Homo sapiens: one gene and its partner. The protein of the gene in region 2 purifies or fractionates together with the protein of the main gene of each other region. This does not show direct contact. Each region holds a gene or a part of one and is shown on either strand. Other genes may lie near its edges.

Region 1 (7,754 bases), on a different chromosome or scaffold from region 2:
CGCTCTGTCGCTCAGGCTGGAGTGCAGTGGCACGATCTTGGCTCACTGCAACCTCCACCTCCCGGGTTCAAGCGATTCTCCTGCCTCAGCCTCCCGAGTAGCTGGGATTACAGGGGTGCATCACCACACCCGGCCAATTTTTGTACTTTTAGTGGAGATGGGGTTTTGCCATGTTGGCCAGGCTGGTCTTGAACTCCTGACCTTAAGTGATCCACCCATCTCAGCCTCCCAAAGTGCTGGCATTACAGGCATGAGCCACCGTGCCTGGCCTTTATTTTTTGTAGAGATGGGGTCTTGCTATGTTGCCCAGGCTGGTCTTGAACTCCTGGCCTCGAGCCGTCCACCTGCCTCAGCTTCCCAAAGTGCTGGGATTACAGGGGTGAGCCACTGAGCCCGGACTCATCGTTTTTCTCGTTCATGTAGGTAAGCAGCTTGATAGACGATGACATCTGTCCGGTTTGTTTTAACTCCCCTGTGCCTGACATAGTGTCTGGTATCTAGTATTCTGCAAGGAATTTGCTAAAAGATTGAGTGAAATGGGCCAGGTGCAGTGGCTCATGCCTGTAATCCCAGCACTTTGGGATGCCAAGATGGGCAAATCATGAGATCAGGAGTTCAAGACCAGCCTGAAACATGGTGAAACCTCGTCTCTACTAAAAATACAAAAATTAGCCAGGCATGGTGGCAGGTGCCTGTAATCCCAGCTACTCGGGAGACTGAGGCAGGAGAATTGCCTGAACCCGGGAGGTGGAGGTTGCAGTGAGCCGAGATTGTGCCACTGCACTCCAGCCTGAGCGACAGAGCAAGACTCCATTTTGGAAAAAAAAAAGATTGAGTGAAATGTTCTTTCTCCATATCCTGCTATCCAAATCTCACCCATCATTAAAGGCCCCTCTCAAACCCCAGTTCTTCCATGAACTGCCCCATAACCCAGTCTAGTGCCATGACTCTTTTCTTTCTTATCTTCTCATGGTACCCAGAGCCTCAATTTCAGGACTCAGTATAGGCTGTCTTGGAGTCACTGTTTCTGTGACGATCTTTCCTATCCTCCTTAAAAATTATTGGATGAAAAGGAGTCTGCTTCTTTTCCATTTTGTCCTCTACAGGACCTGCAATATTGAAAGTCTTCAAGTACCACTTACTGACTTTGAAAAAAAATCACTACTGTGATCATTTGTCAAAAACATACGCATGAAGATTGTCATCTGCCAATCACATAATCTTAAATGAAAAAAATCTAATTTGTAAAAGTATGCAAAATGCATTTTTCAGAGCATGTGAAATTTCTTGTAAGGTATGAACTATGGACAAGTTGGTTTCTCTTACAAAAGCATTTGGACTGTGTGGACAGATTACAGAGAAAATGGAGCTAAACCCCAGAGAAGCCTTCTTCCAGTTACTGTCATGACTTTATCTTATGGAAGCAGTTGTCAGAGCACTGGACTCCAGTTGTCTAACATTTTTCCCCCAATCATACAAGTTAAATACAGAAAAGCATACAGAAGAAATCATCATGATCCTGCTTCTTAGAGGCCCACCGTTCATATTTATTTATTTATTTTTGAGACGGAGTCTCGCTCTGTCACTGAGGCTGGAGTGCAGTGATACGATATCGGCTCACTGCAACCTCCACCTCTTGGGTTTAAATGATTCTCCTGCTTCAACTTCCCGAGTAGCTGGGATTACAGGTGTGTGCCACCATGTTCTGGCTAATTTTTCTCTAAAAGTAGAGACAGGTTTTCACCATGTTGTCCAGGCTGGTCTCAGACTTCTGACCTCAAGTGATGTGCCCGCCTCGGCCTCTCAAAGTGCTGGGATTACAGGTGTGAGCCTCTGTACTCAGCCCATATTTTGATATATTTTCTTCTGGTGTTTGTCCTGTAGATATGTTGGGATTATACGGATGCTAAATTGCTTTTTTCATTTACTATTATATCAAGAGCATTTCTCAAGATCATAAAATATTTTTTAATCATGTGACTTTTTATTTATTTATTTGTTTGTTTGTTTGTTGAGACAGGGTTTTGCTCTGTTGCCCAGGCTGGAATGCGGTGATGCAATCTTGGCTCACTGCAGCCTCCACCTTCCGGGTTCAAGTGATCCTCCCACCTCAGCCTCCTGAGTGCCTGGGACTATAGGCATGCACCACTTACCCTGGCCTGATTTTTAACATTGCAAAAAATTCATGATTGTACCAAGATTTGTCCAAAACCCAACTGTTAGTCATTTATCCTTGCATGCTATTTTTTTTTTTTTACTGATCTCTGATTATTTTCTTAGGATACCCTCCTAGACGCAGAATTACTTGGTCATAGGATAAGAACATTTTCAAAGCCCTTAATACATATTTGTTTTAGCTCCTAGTACTAGGTCTATTACATAGTAGGTACTTAGCAAATAATTGTTGAATGAATGTACGAATGCCCTCCAGAAAGGTGGCGCCAATTTATACTCCCACCTGCAGTAAGAGAAAAGAGCCTTGTCTTGGTCAGTCCACATCACAATAGGAGTAATGATTATAGCTGGATTTTGGTTTCTGTGACTCTGGCAGAGAAATAATCTATTTGCCTTAAAACAAAGAAATGAAAGTAAAAAGTTGAATCCTCCCTAAATGACATATGGTTTTGCTTTAATAGACTGCTGCTTTTAAACACACTGGCACAAAAGTGGAATGGAGGGAGAGTTCTGATTATTTTAGGGCTGAATCATGAAGGTCCAGGATTCCTTCTTCACATCTCGCTCTATTAGATCTTGGCCCCTGGGACCAATCTCATGGCTACTTGACTCAACGGGGCTGCCCACCAATCCCAATAAGCTTGAGATCTGGAGAAGGGACCCTTTATGTATGATGTGGGCCTTTCCTGTGATGTCAAATTTTGGTGGTGGTGGTGGGATTACCAAGGAACTTTGTTCCCTTATCTGAAGTGTAGAAATTTAGTGGAGGCAAATTTAAGAGTTAGGAACCTTCCATTCTGTCAACTGTAGGGGAAGGAGGAAACTAATATTGACTTTGTTTTGTTTTTTTTTTGTTTTTCCGGAGACGGTCTTGCTCTGTTACCCAGGCTGGAGTGAAGTGGCATGATCATGGCTCACTGCGGCTTCAACCTCCTGTGCTCAAAAAACTCTCCCACCTCAGCCTCCTGAGTAGTTGGGACCACAGGTGTGAGCCATCATGCCCAGGTATTTTTAAAATTTTTTTGTAGAGACGGGGTCTCACCATATTGCCCAGGCTAAACTCCTGGACTCAAGCCATCCACTCTCCTCAGCCTCCCAAAGTGCTGGAATTACAAAGGTGAGCCATCATGCCTGACCACGGTTTGAGGTGTTTTTGTTTGTCTGTTTTTTTGTTTGTTTTTTGAGACAGAGTCTCACTCTGTCACCCAGGCTGGAGTGTAGTGGTATGATCTTGGCTCACTGCAACCTCCCCCTCCCGGGTTCAAGCAATTCTCCTGCCTCAGCCTCCAGAGTAGCTGGGTCTACAGGCACGTGCCACCATGCCCAGCTAATTTTTATATTTTTAGTAGAGGGGGTTTTGCCATGTTGGCCAGGCTGGTCTCAAATTCCTGACCTCAGGTGATCCACCCACCTTGGCTTCCCAAAGTGCTGGGATTACAAGCGTGAGCGATCATGCCTGACCACCGTTTGAGTTTTTACTATGTGCCAAGCCCCTTCCCAGTCTACTGCATTCCTTGTATTAACCTTTTCATACAAATAATATTATCTCCACTTTGCAAATTGGGGAGTTGGGACTCAGAGAGGTTGGGTAACTTATTGAAGATCACACAGCTGGTAAATGCCAGAGCCATGGAGATGATGGTCCTCCAATTCTAAATTTAACTCTTCACTATCCTGGAATGCTGCCCTAGGAGAGGGCAGTGTGGGTGAAATTTCTAGGTGTATATGGAGATGGGGGGGATGAGGTGGTGCCAGGATTATGGCTTTGGGTTCAGGCAGACTGTGGGCAGATTTAGGGCTGAGAAGTTGATCCCAAGGTTCTCTGGCTTGGCTCTTGGTTTGAAGTTCTTCTAGTCCATATGGTGGGATCAAAAACTCCCAAGTCTAAGGGATGTGGTTGAGCCCGCAGTGGGGGCCAAGAGTAGAGGCTAGGGGTCTCTGGACCATTTTATAGGGTCTCCAGTTCTTAGAGCTTGGGTCTGAGGGTTCTGGGGCCCAAGACCTCCAATTATGGGGTCCAGCTCTTAGGTGTTCAGGCCTGAGGAGCCACGTTCAAGAGTCCCTGTGAAGTTTCAATAGGAAGGGCTTGTTTCAGAAAGTCTCTGGGTTTGCAGGGCTCAGACTGGGGGTCCCATCCTAAAGGCCCTTTTTCTGAGTTTTAGGGTCCTTGGGCCTGGGGGATGAGAGAGATCCAGTTCTGAGGGTTTCAAGAGGTACGGTCCCCGAAAAGCCCAGTTCTGAGAGGCCTGGTTTGGAAATCTCGCCCTGAAGATTCCTGGATCCCAGGGCTCAGGACCAGGCGTCTCTGGATCTGAGGATCCTGGTAGTGATGGCTTAGGGTGGTGTTCCCTGGTCCGAAGCCCGGAGCTAAGGGCACCGGGTCTGCGGTGCGGCTGCGAGGAGCAGGGAAGCGCAGGCCCATGGCAGCCGCGAGGCGGAGGAGCGGGCCAGCGGGCGGCAGTGCTGGCGGCCCCCACACGTTCTGCGCTGGGTCGGCGCTAGGACTCCGGGGCGGCGGCCGTGGGAAGGGCGGCGCTAGGACCCCGCGGGCCCGGCGGCGCGTGGGGCGGCGCGTGTTGACAGCGGCGGCGGTGGAACCGGGCGGGCGGCGGGAGTCGGCGCCTCGGGTTCCTACCTCGCGTCCCTAGGCGGCGGCGGCCGGGCGTCCCGGGATGGCCTTCATGGAGAAGCCGCCAGCCGGCAAGGTGCTGCTGGACGACACGGTGCCGCTGACAGCAGCCATCGAGGCGAGCCAGAGCCTGCAGTCCCACACGGTGCGCGGCCCAGCGGGCGGGCGGGCGGCGTGGGGCGGCCCCGGGCCGCGAGGGGGCTGCGGGCTGCCTGGCGCGGGCCGGGCAGGGTCGTCGGACGGAGACCGGGCCACAGGGTGGGCGGCCCTGGCCGAGAAGGCTGTGGCGCGCCGCTGGGTCTGGGTCAGGGCCCCTGGGGCCCAGGCGAACGCTGAGGCCCGGAGGGGCCAAGGATGGGGACCGCAGCTCCCGGCGCCGCGGGGTGGAAGGAGCTCGGCGGCGACCAGGAAAGCGACTCCGAGTTGGGGGGCGGGGGCGGGGGCTGCGGGATTCCCGGGCTCACCTTGGACTAGGGGAGCAGGAACGAGACCGCTCAGGACCATCCACTTCTGCCCGCCGCCAGCCTTTTCCTTTTTGAGGCCGTGTAATTTCCTCCTTGCAGCTGAGGGTCTGGGTGATGGGGATGAGGGTGTGCCGGGCCAAATGAAGTGTGACTCCAGAGCCTACTTGTTGGGACAGCAGAGTGTAAGTGGCTGGGGTCTGCAGCCCCGTTTCCAGGTCAGCCGCTTGGCCCTGGTCCCGGGAAGTGGTGGGGGCGGCAGTCGGGGCGCTGTTAAGCAGGTGTATGAATGTGCTTCTCTAACTTGCTCTTTAGTGGGCAGTGGTAGCATTCATTTGAGTTTAAAATCCACTCGAGTAGCATAAAGGAGTAATAGGTCCTCATAGTAAACATTGGCAGGGTTCATTTCTGCTACATATACGGTCTTTTATGGGGCTTTAAAACCGTGGTTGTTTTCATTTGCTTGTACCTTTTTTTTTTTTTGAAAGGCCCACTATGCATTATAATTTCCAAGCAATAAATCTAGGAACCAGCAAGAAACCTGGAGCTATCAGCTAGTGGGACTTTTTTGGAAAAGTAATGAGTGAGGAGAGAGATTCCTTCAATTGTGATGTTTTGTCAGTCCACCGAATCAGATTCAGACTCAGAGGCTTGTTTGTTTACCATTGCAGTGTGTTTGGGGGGTCATCATCTGGAGGCTAAAGCTCACAATAGCCTTCTGTTTCTCTTTTCGTTCAAGCTCTTCTGATGACTTCAAAGAGACCTTTTATTCTGTTGTATTAAAGTGAGACTTTTTTGAACCTCAGTTTCCTCTTCTGACAGCCGTGCTTTGTAGGGCTTGAATTGTTCAAAGCATTCACTTCCAGTTAAGAAAATTATTATCTTTTTAAAAAGGGCTATTTATTTCACGCTGTGTGTCTTTAATCCTATTCTGTAGACATGTGAGAAGGCACATACAGGACAGAATTTGTTAAACTTGCTATCATTTGTGCCTAAAGGGAGTATGGCATAAGGGTTGAAATTTAGGATAGGGAGTCAAGAGTAATTCAGCTATTAAATTTGATTTTTGACTTGACTATTGGCAAGTAAGTCTTATAACCTTTCAGGGAATAGTGTCGAGTCCTTTAGGTTTATTTTGTATTGAAAATAAAGAGATAGATGTTTCTAAATACTCACAAATTACTTTCCCTAGGAAGCATTCATGATTTCTACAGCCCCAGCCCATGTGCCTACCCACACCTTAATCTTGATTAGTTTGTCCTGTAATTACTTCTTTACTTTTTGTCTCCACCAGGCTACAAGAGGAGGGGCACTTCTTCCTCACTTTTGAGTCTCATTCCCTGGTTTTTGATAGGATTTCAAATGTGTTTATCAAATGACTAAATAATCCAACTTCAACCTTACTATGCCTCTTTTTCTGTTTATGTAAAATGGTAATTGTAAACATTGAAAAAATAACTTAGAGATCAGTGCTTTAGCTAGGTGGCGAAAGATGTAATAGGATTCTGTTTTTATTGTAAGGGTGTGTGTGTGTGTGTGTGTGTGTGTGTGTCTGTGTGTGTGTGTGTGTGTGTGTGTGTAGAGACAGCGTCTCACCATGTTGTCCAGGCTGGTGTGTGTGTGTGTGTGTGTGTGTGTGTGTGTGTGTGTGTGGAGACAGCGTCTCACCATGTTGTCCAGGCTGGTCTGGAACGCCTGGGCTCAGGCCGTTCTCCTGCCTCAGCCCCACAAAGTGCTGGTATACAGATGTGAGCCACCACACCTGGCCCTGCAGATCTTTTCTTTAAAAAATAAAATAATTTAGGGTAGAAAATGGCAGTTCTTGTAGGGATGACTGACCACAAAAGACAGTGACTCACAGGAGACCCATAGAGGCAGATGTGGTAGAGTAAAAAACTGTAGCATTGTCTTGCGTAATTTTTTGACTGTTCTGTGTTCTTGTCATTTTAGCTGTAAAGTTTGACTGAGAAATGTTGCATCAGCCCTGAAGTTTATTGAGAAAATCTTACGCTGATGCAAACTTTTTGGACTGTTAGTGTCTTATGAGTAAGTCTTTTTTAAAACAGGAACTGTTGGAAATTATTTTGGAAAGAAGTAGTTGTTAAGAGGGGTATGTAGAAGAGAAAGGCACTGTTTTTTCTTGGGGAGATTGAAGTTGGCTTTCCAGCTTGGTAGCTGAAGGGAGATGGTGTTCCAGAAGTCAGAGCTCTACTCTCGCTTTGAAATGCTGAATCTCTAGGAAGTTACTCCTTGGCTGTAGACAGAAACATACGGAGTTAGAGACAGACTTGGGGTTGGAAGAGGCAAGACCTTAATACAGGTCTGAGCTGATACTTGCTAGTCATGTGATATAGGCTGGGCAAGTCACTTAAACCTTTTTGAAGTTTAGTTTTGTCATCTGTAAATGGGAGTAATAAATGCCTGCCCTGCCTGCCTCCCAAGGTTGTTAGGAAGATCAAATGAAATCATCTTGATGAAGTATTTGTAAA
Region 2 (7,593 bases):
GGCCGTGGGGTCCAGCTCCAGGTCGTACAGGCGGAGGCTGGGCCAGGCGGAGCGGACAAAGTTCCCGAGCAGGGGCCGGCTGCTCCTGCACCGAAGCTGCACCGTGCGGTTGTAGTACTGGGAGATGATGGCACCTCGGCTGCGGCCTATGGAGGCAGCTGGGCAGGGCCGGGCCGGGCAGGGCCAGGCCTCCCTCCCCTCAGGATGGGCTCACCACAGGCCTCTGCGTCCCTCACCCCTTCCCAGGACCCAGGAAAATCCTTTCAACAAAGACTTCAGGCACCACTGCATTCCGAAAGCCTATTTTTACCCCGTGATGACTCTGGAGTCATTTTTGGAGCCCAGCGAGGGCCACATGGGGCTGTGCTGGGCCCCCAGGCAGCAGATGGGATGGGCTAGGAGCCCGCCCTGGGCCTGGCTCTGAGCTACGGGAGCAGCCACTACCCAGGGAGATGCCTGGCAGGAAGCCCAGCCCAGCCCCAGGGACTGGGGTCAACTCGGGGCCGGGGCCGAGGCCGAGGCTGAGGGTCCCACTCACCAATGGTGCGGCTGGGCATGCTGGCCAGGATGCGGAGTGTGGCCGTGCTCTGGGTGCCCTCGGGCCGCCAGAGTGTCTGCTGGCTACTTCCTACAAAGCAAGAAAGACTCACCAGGGGTCCTGGAGATGCCATTGGCCACAGTATCTCCCACCCCATCCCAGGCCTGCAGAGCTGGGAGGCCCGTCCTGAGGGGCTGGGGCACCCAAGTCTTGGTCCACACCACCCAGCATCCAGGCCTGAGCTCACCTGTCACCTCCCGCTCTCTCTGCTGCAGCTCCAGCCCCTCCTGGGCCGTGCACTGGCTCTGCTCCTGGATGAGCTGCTGGAAGGAGTCGTGCACTTCGCTTTCATCATAGGGGCTGGGGCCCTGGCTGCAGAGGGGGTTGGCGGGGGGGTCAGGCTCCAGCCACCTCTCTCCTTCCAGCAGCCCCTGCTCAGGTGACCTCTCCGTGGGGGGTGGAACATTCCAGCCTCCAGCCCCCAGCCCCAGAGCGCTTACCCCTGGTCCCCTGGGGTCTCAGGGACATCGAGGATGAAGGCCAGTGGCTGGGCCATGTCTCTGGCCAATGCCCGCTAGTCTGCAGACCTAGGGTAGCTCAGAGCCTGGGCGCCACCTCCGGAGCCCCCATCTGATGAGACAGGGGCACAGAGCCAGGGGTGGTCTTCAACGCCTGGCAGCTGTCCACACCACCCATTCCTGGGGGAACCACAGGAGGTGCCACTCACAGCCCAGACAGTCCCGCCCACCCCCCTATCACCCCAGGTACATAAATGGTGAGGCACCGAATAAGCCTCATGCCAGAATGGAATGGGGGGCCCCCTCCAGTGTCAGGGGAGGGGAGAGAGGAAGGAAGGGTGTGGGGTCTGCAGTTCCACATCTGTTTCCTCGATGTCGCCAGTCCCTGGGAAATGGGGAAGAGGTAGGGTGCCTGTAGACACAGCCCCTTTCAGGATCTCCATGCCCAGGGTTCTGGCACAGAGACACCTCCTTTTTGGAGAGAAAGGTCAGAGTAGGCTGTAGGCCTTCTCTGCGTCTGCCCTGTGACCTCAAAGAACTTCCTCTAGCAGGAAATTAGCTGCTGGAGCCCTCACCCCCAACCAGCCCCAGGCGGAAGCAGCACAGGGGGCTCCTCCCCCACACACAGAGGTCACTCCATGCCACCGCCGTCAGGGCGCCAAGGTCCTCATGTTCTCAGAAGACCCACTGCCCTGCATTCCATCATCCCAGGGCGGCCGGCTGGGGGTGGCCAGGACCTCAACAGGCCTCCTTTGTCCTGGCTCTGCCGTCACCCGGCACAACTGGAACCAGAGCAGCCTTGTCTGGGGCCCTGGGCTCGGGGCCCGTTCATCTGTGAGAGTGGAGCCAGGACTCAGCTCCCAGCCACCAGCGAGTCCTGCCGGCCTCTGCCCTGGACTCCTCCTGCGCTCACCCTCAGGAACTCAGGGCTCAAAGTCGGCCGGGTTGAAGGGCGCTTTCCTCGGACAGGCAAAGCCCGGGGGCGCCCCGACAGAGCAGCTCCTTGCAGGGGTGCCAGTCACAGGACCGGACGGCGCCCTCCCTCAGTGTCCTGGGTGCCATCTTCGGGCCCAGGCCCCACACCACCCCCTCCCTCCAGCAGGAGCAAAGACGTGGGAAAACCAGCCCAGAGCTGGGTCCGAGGCGGCCCCACCCAGCCTAACACGGGACAGCTGCCGAAAGAGGGGCTGAGGACGCCCCACCCAGTCCCTAGAGCTGGAATCCCTTCCTCCAGACAGGCCCTTCTAAGCTCAGGGAACCCGGGGACTCGGGCACCCAGCGCCCCAGCACTCCGCCCCGAGGCCCAGGCAAGTCCAGCGGAGTTTCCAGGCGCACCATTCCTGAGCTAGGTGGGGAGAGGCTGGGTGGCGCCCGTTTCCAGGAACCCCCACCCCAGCCGGCAGCGAGCTTCCCGGGAGCAGCCGCTACCCAGGGAGAACCGCAACCTGGCCCCAGAGCCCAGAGCGGCTGCAACTCTGGGGCCACCGAACCCGTCCAGCCGGCCTCCCTGTCCCCCGCCCCTTCCCATCCCGGCCACACCCCCTCCCCTCCCCTCCCCGTGCCCTGGCGCTCGGCTGGGGGACCTGGGTGGGGGCTGCGGATTTTGCTCCCCGCACTGTCCTCCCCGCCCCTGCCGCTCCCAGCTCTGTCCGAGCCGGAGGGTCAAGCCCTGGGAGCTCCAGGAGCACCCGGGGAGGGAACTCGGCTGCCAAATGGCCCCAGAGGCCGAAAGGAATTCAGGGGGGATTGCCGCTGTCCCCGCATAGGAGAAGCAGCTGGGGCTGGCGGGACCCGGGACCGGGATCGCGGCCGCTCACCTGGGAGGCGCCGGGGAGGAGGGGCCGCGCGCGCAGCCAGGGCTCACCTGTGCCCCGCAAGAGCCGCCGGGAACTGAGGTCTCGGCTCTCCTTGCCAAGGGAGTGGCAAAGGGCCCCAGGGGCGACTGGGCCAGTCGCAGGTCTGCCGGGGCCGGGGGAGTAGCCGCACCTCCCGGCCCACGTGGGCGGGGGGGGGGGGGGCGGGCCTCGGCTATCACGTGACCCGGCCCGGCCCGCGGCGCCCCCGCCCTCCTCCGGGCGCCCCGCGGCGACTATGCCTTCCTCCCCTGCCAACTTCCGACCCCTCCTCCTGAGGTCTGAGCTGGGCTGGATTCATTCCAGCCCCTGGTTGAAGTCCCCAATTTTTCTGACGCTCAGTTTCCCCAAGTTCCAAAAAGGGGCAATATTTCCAGACTCATCTGCTTCCCATGGTTAGGGATCGTCCAAGTAAGATGCCGCCGAAAGCCCCAGGGACACAGAGTATCTCACTCCAGATTGGGCAGCGCCCCCCCCCCCGCCGCCCCCGCAAGCCTCCTGCTGACTCTCCCCGACCCCGGCGGGGGGAGCCTGGTTATCTCCCACTCCTGACACCTGGGCGGGGTTCATTGTTTATCTAGCAAGAGTTCTGGCTCACTTCCTGTGTGCTGTGTGGAGAGGAGGGGATGAAAAGGAGGACACGCTGACACTTAGGTGACTGTCCCCAGGTGCTGTACCCGTTGCCCTGTTTTCTGTTATTCCCCATGAGCCAGGAAGGTATGCACTGATATTCCCATTTCACAGATGAGGAAACTGAGGCTGAGAGAAGTTAATCACCCTTTAGGGTGCCCCCAGCCAAAGCAGGAGACTTAGTGGTCCACCTGGGAACTCTATGGAGGAAACTGCCTTTGAGATTGTACCCCCCACCCCAAGCCCATTTGGAAGGGAGGGTCATTCCTGGCGGGGAGAAGCCATGAAGCAGGCAGGGTGAATGTGAGCTGGGGCCCAGGAGGGCAGGAGAGGGCACTGCTGCAGGGGAGAGCAGGCAAGCAAAAGCGAGGACCAGGCAGGGGTCAAGGCTGGGGCCTTTTGGAGCTGCCAGTGTGGTCCTCAGATGGCTACCCCAAGCTGGTTCTTGGCAAGTGGCACCCTGGCATGGAGACCCAGCCCCTGCCTCTCCTCCCACTGCTTCCCCCTCCCTGCATACCCACACTGAATTTGCATGAATGCCACCTCCTCTGGGGAGCCTCCCCAGATTGAACCCTGGTGGAGCACCTACCACTTCCTATTGACATGTACATCTGTGGTTCTGTGCCCCCTCCTACCCCAGCCCACTGTGTGCCCAGCACCAGCACATAGCTTGCGCCTGACACACAGAAAGGACTCTGGAAACCAGGAAGGAGGTGGGCAGAGAGGCAGAAAAGCTATGAACATTCAGACCTGAGATGACTGGGCCCTATAGCAGGTAGAGAGGGAGCAGAGAGGAAGGGCTGCGGGCTTCCCAGGGGCCCAAGGACAGAGAATTGGCAAAGATATGTCTTAAACATCTAGCCTGGGAGAGCATGAATGGAGCCAATTCCTGAGCACTTACTACCGGCCAGGTGCTAGGCCTGGGTCTTGGCACAACCATAACGCCAATGACAGGGGCTGGAAGTACAGCAGTAACACCAAGAGTATCTGGAAACCCAGCAGCCAGGTTCTGGGGAGCCCACCATCCTGTCATTATCACACCCTCCAGGGTGAGGCCGGCAGATAAAGAGTTTGGCCCCTGTGCCCCCACCGTTCCCATCCCCACCCATGTCAGGCTCCCAGCTCAGGCCTCGAGGTCAAGTCCTGCCTATCCAGGCTGGAAGGAGTTGAACAGAGAGGGCCTCAGCTGCAGGCTGGACATCCCTGGAGGCAGCCAGGCGGCAGACCCGGACCAGTGGACCCTAGGGCTGCAGGAGACCAGGCCCTGACTCCTGTGCAGAGGGGAAGGGTGGGCCACCCGCAGCCCAGCATGCACAGAGCTCCCTGGGAGGCCAAGTGGCCTACGCCTGTCACCTTCACCTCTGCATCTCAGGGGCCCACAGGAAGTGCCTGCTTGGCCTCAGTTTAAAGCAGAGGAAACCATGGGGTGAGAGGGGAGGAGGGAGGTAGTGGAGAGGGAAGCTGGGTTTCCTGTCATATGACCCCTCCTCTGGGCTCCCTCACCACCCTGCCTGGCTTGGCAGGAGTCGTCTGAGAAGGGGACTCCTCCAGGGACTTGGTCCCTAGGTCCCCAGGTGAGCTGGATGTCCAGTGGAGGGAGAATGCAGAGGGTGAGGGGCTGTGGGGGCCAGCTAGAGCCCTGCAAGGGTAGCAGTGGGTCCCTGCTCCTGTCCCCACGGCTGGGGCTGTAGCCACAGGTCCTCATCAGGGGCTCGCGGGGTACCTGGGACTGGAGGCTGGACCACAAGAAGGAAGACAGAAGGGGGTCCCCCGACATCCAGAGTCAGATGTGGCAGATGCCGAGTCCCAGGAACTGTGGGGTTTGGGACACAGGCTCTTCCGGAAGGGCAAACTGCCACGTGGAGAAGAGAGGGAATTGTCTCTCCTTGGGGTGACGGTGGGCCCAGGCACAGGTGGATGCGGGGTGCAGCAGGTCTTGGCTTTCTTTGCCTGTGCCGGTCCAGACTTTCTGTGCCCTTTGGATCTTTCACCCCATTTGACAGATGGGGAGACTGAGGCCGTGGCTGTGTGTCCCTCTGAGAGTTGGAGCGGGGCTGGGCCCGAATTCGACCGCAGCAGGATTCTCTCTCATTTCTGAGCCCCGGAGGTGGCAGAGCGGCAGACCCGGGCAAGTGAACCCTAGGGCTGCAGGAGCCCAGGCCCCGACGCCGGCGCAGAGGGGACGGAAGGGCCCGCCCCCAGCCCAGCGTGCACAGAGGCCATAGCCAAGGCCTTAAGGCTCATCCAACCGGGGACTCATATCCCCCCCACCGGCAGCCCGGCGCCCCAGCCTCTACCCGTGCCCGCCGAGATGCTGCTGCCGCGGTCGGTGTCATCGGAGCGGGCCCCTGGGGTGCCGGAGCCGGAGGAGCTGTGGGAGGCAGAGATGGAGCGGCTGCGCGGCTCTGGGACGCCCGTGCGCGGGCTGCCCTATGCCATGATGGACAAGCGCCTCATCTGGTGGGTGCCACGCGGGCGCCAGACGGTGCGTGGGGGGGGTGCTGCGAGGCTGCCCCGTCGGATGGTGTGGGAGCACCCCGTCTGCTTGGCCCGGGTGGGCAGGGCGGGTGACTCAGGGGCGCCCCTGTCACCACCCCCGTCCAGGCAGCTGCGGGAGCCCGCGGGGGTGCAGACCTTGCGCTGGCAGCGGTGGCAGCGCCGGCGGCAGACGGTGGAAAGGCGCCTGCGGGAGGCAGCGCAGCGGCTGGCCCGGGGCCTTGGGCTCTGGGAGGGGGCGCTCTACGAGATCGGGGGTAGGACCCGCGCGACCCGCACCTCCCCTTGCCCTCTCTGGAGCCCCACTGCCCAGATCGGAAAAAGGAGAGTGGCATCATCCCACCTGCCTTCACCCGGGTCCCCCGACCAATCGGCCCCTCCCCCCTCCCACCCCTTCCGCCCGCAGGCACCGCAAACCTCGGGCCCACGCAGCACCCCCAGGTGACTGTCAGCGGTACCTCCGGACTCGGGCGGGTGGGAGCCTGGCGGGCACCCCACGCCGTCCGGTGGGCCCGCCCTTGGACTCTCAGCGCGGCCCCAGCCCCGGCCCCGGCCTCCCTGACCCACCCTGCTCTCCCACTGCAGGCCTCTTCGGCACAGGAATTCGGTCCTACTTCACCTTCCTCCGCTTCCTGCTGCTACTCAACCTGCTGAGCCTGCTGCTCACCGCAAGCTTCGTGCTGCTGCCCCTGGTCTGGCTCCGCCCCCCTGACCCAGGCCCCACCCTGAACTTGAGTGAGTGTGAGGCCCACCAGGGGAAGTGCTCCGGTGCCCACCTGCGCCATGGGGGGGCTGGCCCAGGGCCCAGAGCGTGGCGACAACGCTGGGCGTGGTCCTGCCGTGCAGGCCCCGGGGCTCTCTCTCCCTGACCTCGCCTTGTGTGGGGCACGCCTTTGGCACATCCTCAGCCCCCTGCCCAGGCCTCCCCAGGGTTGGGGGTTATAGAGCAGTAGCCGCAGAGCCTCACCTATGCCTTGGGGATCCCTCTCTATTGACCCCCTTCCTCCTCAACAGCCCTCCAGTGCCCTGGTAGCCGCCAGTCCCCGCCTGGCGTTTTGAGGTTCCACAATCAACTTTGGCATGTTTTGACTGGCAGGGTGAGTGAGGTCTGTCCCGGCTATGGTCCAGAGTCTGGGAGACCCAGGGAACTGGCTTCAGGGGACACAAGTCTAAGAGGACCTCTGCTCCTCCAGGGACATTTCGGCTCCTCAGGGGATGGTCTTACCTAGACAGACTGGCCTGGCCGGTGGTGGGGTTAGAGAGAGGCTGAGGCCACTGTGCCCAACATAGACTCATGGACACATGCCCGTGGTCCTCAGAGCCCAGCTGGTGTAGGCGGTGCCAGGGACAAAGGGGGAAAAGTGCCCCGGCCTCTGGGAGAAGCACTTCCCCACCCTCATCCTGGGAAGCCATCGAGTGGTCACCAATGGGGTTCCTGGGTTCCAGTCGTGGCTCTATTTCTCAAAGCCCTGTGACCGTGGGCACGTTGCCGAACCTCTGTGGGCCCTTGTAAGACGGGACACTCCCTACCTGATGGGGGGATTGCACGGGGGCTAAC

What was found.
Region 1: the proteins of TMC6 (region 2) and PXK purify together in Homo sapiens (affinity purification with mass spectrometry; 2 studies listed by BioGRID and IntAct, with this or other methods). This does not show direct contact.

What each region holds. Positions count from the first base shown.
Region 1 is NC_000003.12:58,328,142-58,335,895, forward strand, and holds the start of PXK (PX domain-containing protein kinase-like protein), read left to right. Parts: upstream 1-4,750; 5' UTR 4,751-4,847; coding exon 4,848-4,949; intron 4,950-5,164; exon of another isoform or gene 5,165-5,408; coding exon of another isoform or gene 5,409-5,450; intron 5,451-7,754. UniProt on the Homo sapiens protein: Binds to and modulates brain Na,K-ATPase subunits ATP1B1 and ATP1B3 and may thereby participate in the regulation of electrical excitability and synaptic transmission. May not display kinase activity.
Region 2 is NC_000017.11:78,125,739-78,133,331, forward strand, and holds the start of TMC6 (transmembrane channel-like protein 6), read right to left. Parts: upstream 3,018-7,593; 5' UTR 2,874-3,017; exon of another isoform or gene 1,169-2,873; 5' UTR 1,095-1,168; coding exon 1,039-1,094; intron 911-1,038; coding exon 786-910; intron 629-785; coding exon 539-628; intron 147-538; coding exon 1-146. Other genes in the region: TMC8 (transmembrane channel-like protein 8), read left to right, coding at 5,851-5,999, 6,144-6,292, 6,621-6,770, 7,050-7,132. UniProt on the Homo sapiens protein: Acts as a regulatory protein involved in the regulation of numerous cellular processes. Together with its homolog TMC8/EVER2, forms a complex with CIB1 in lymphocytes and keratynocytes where TMC6 and TMC8 stabilize CIB1 and reciprocally.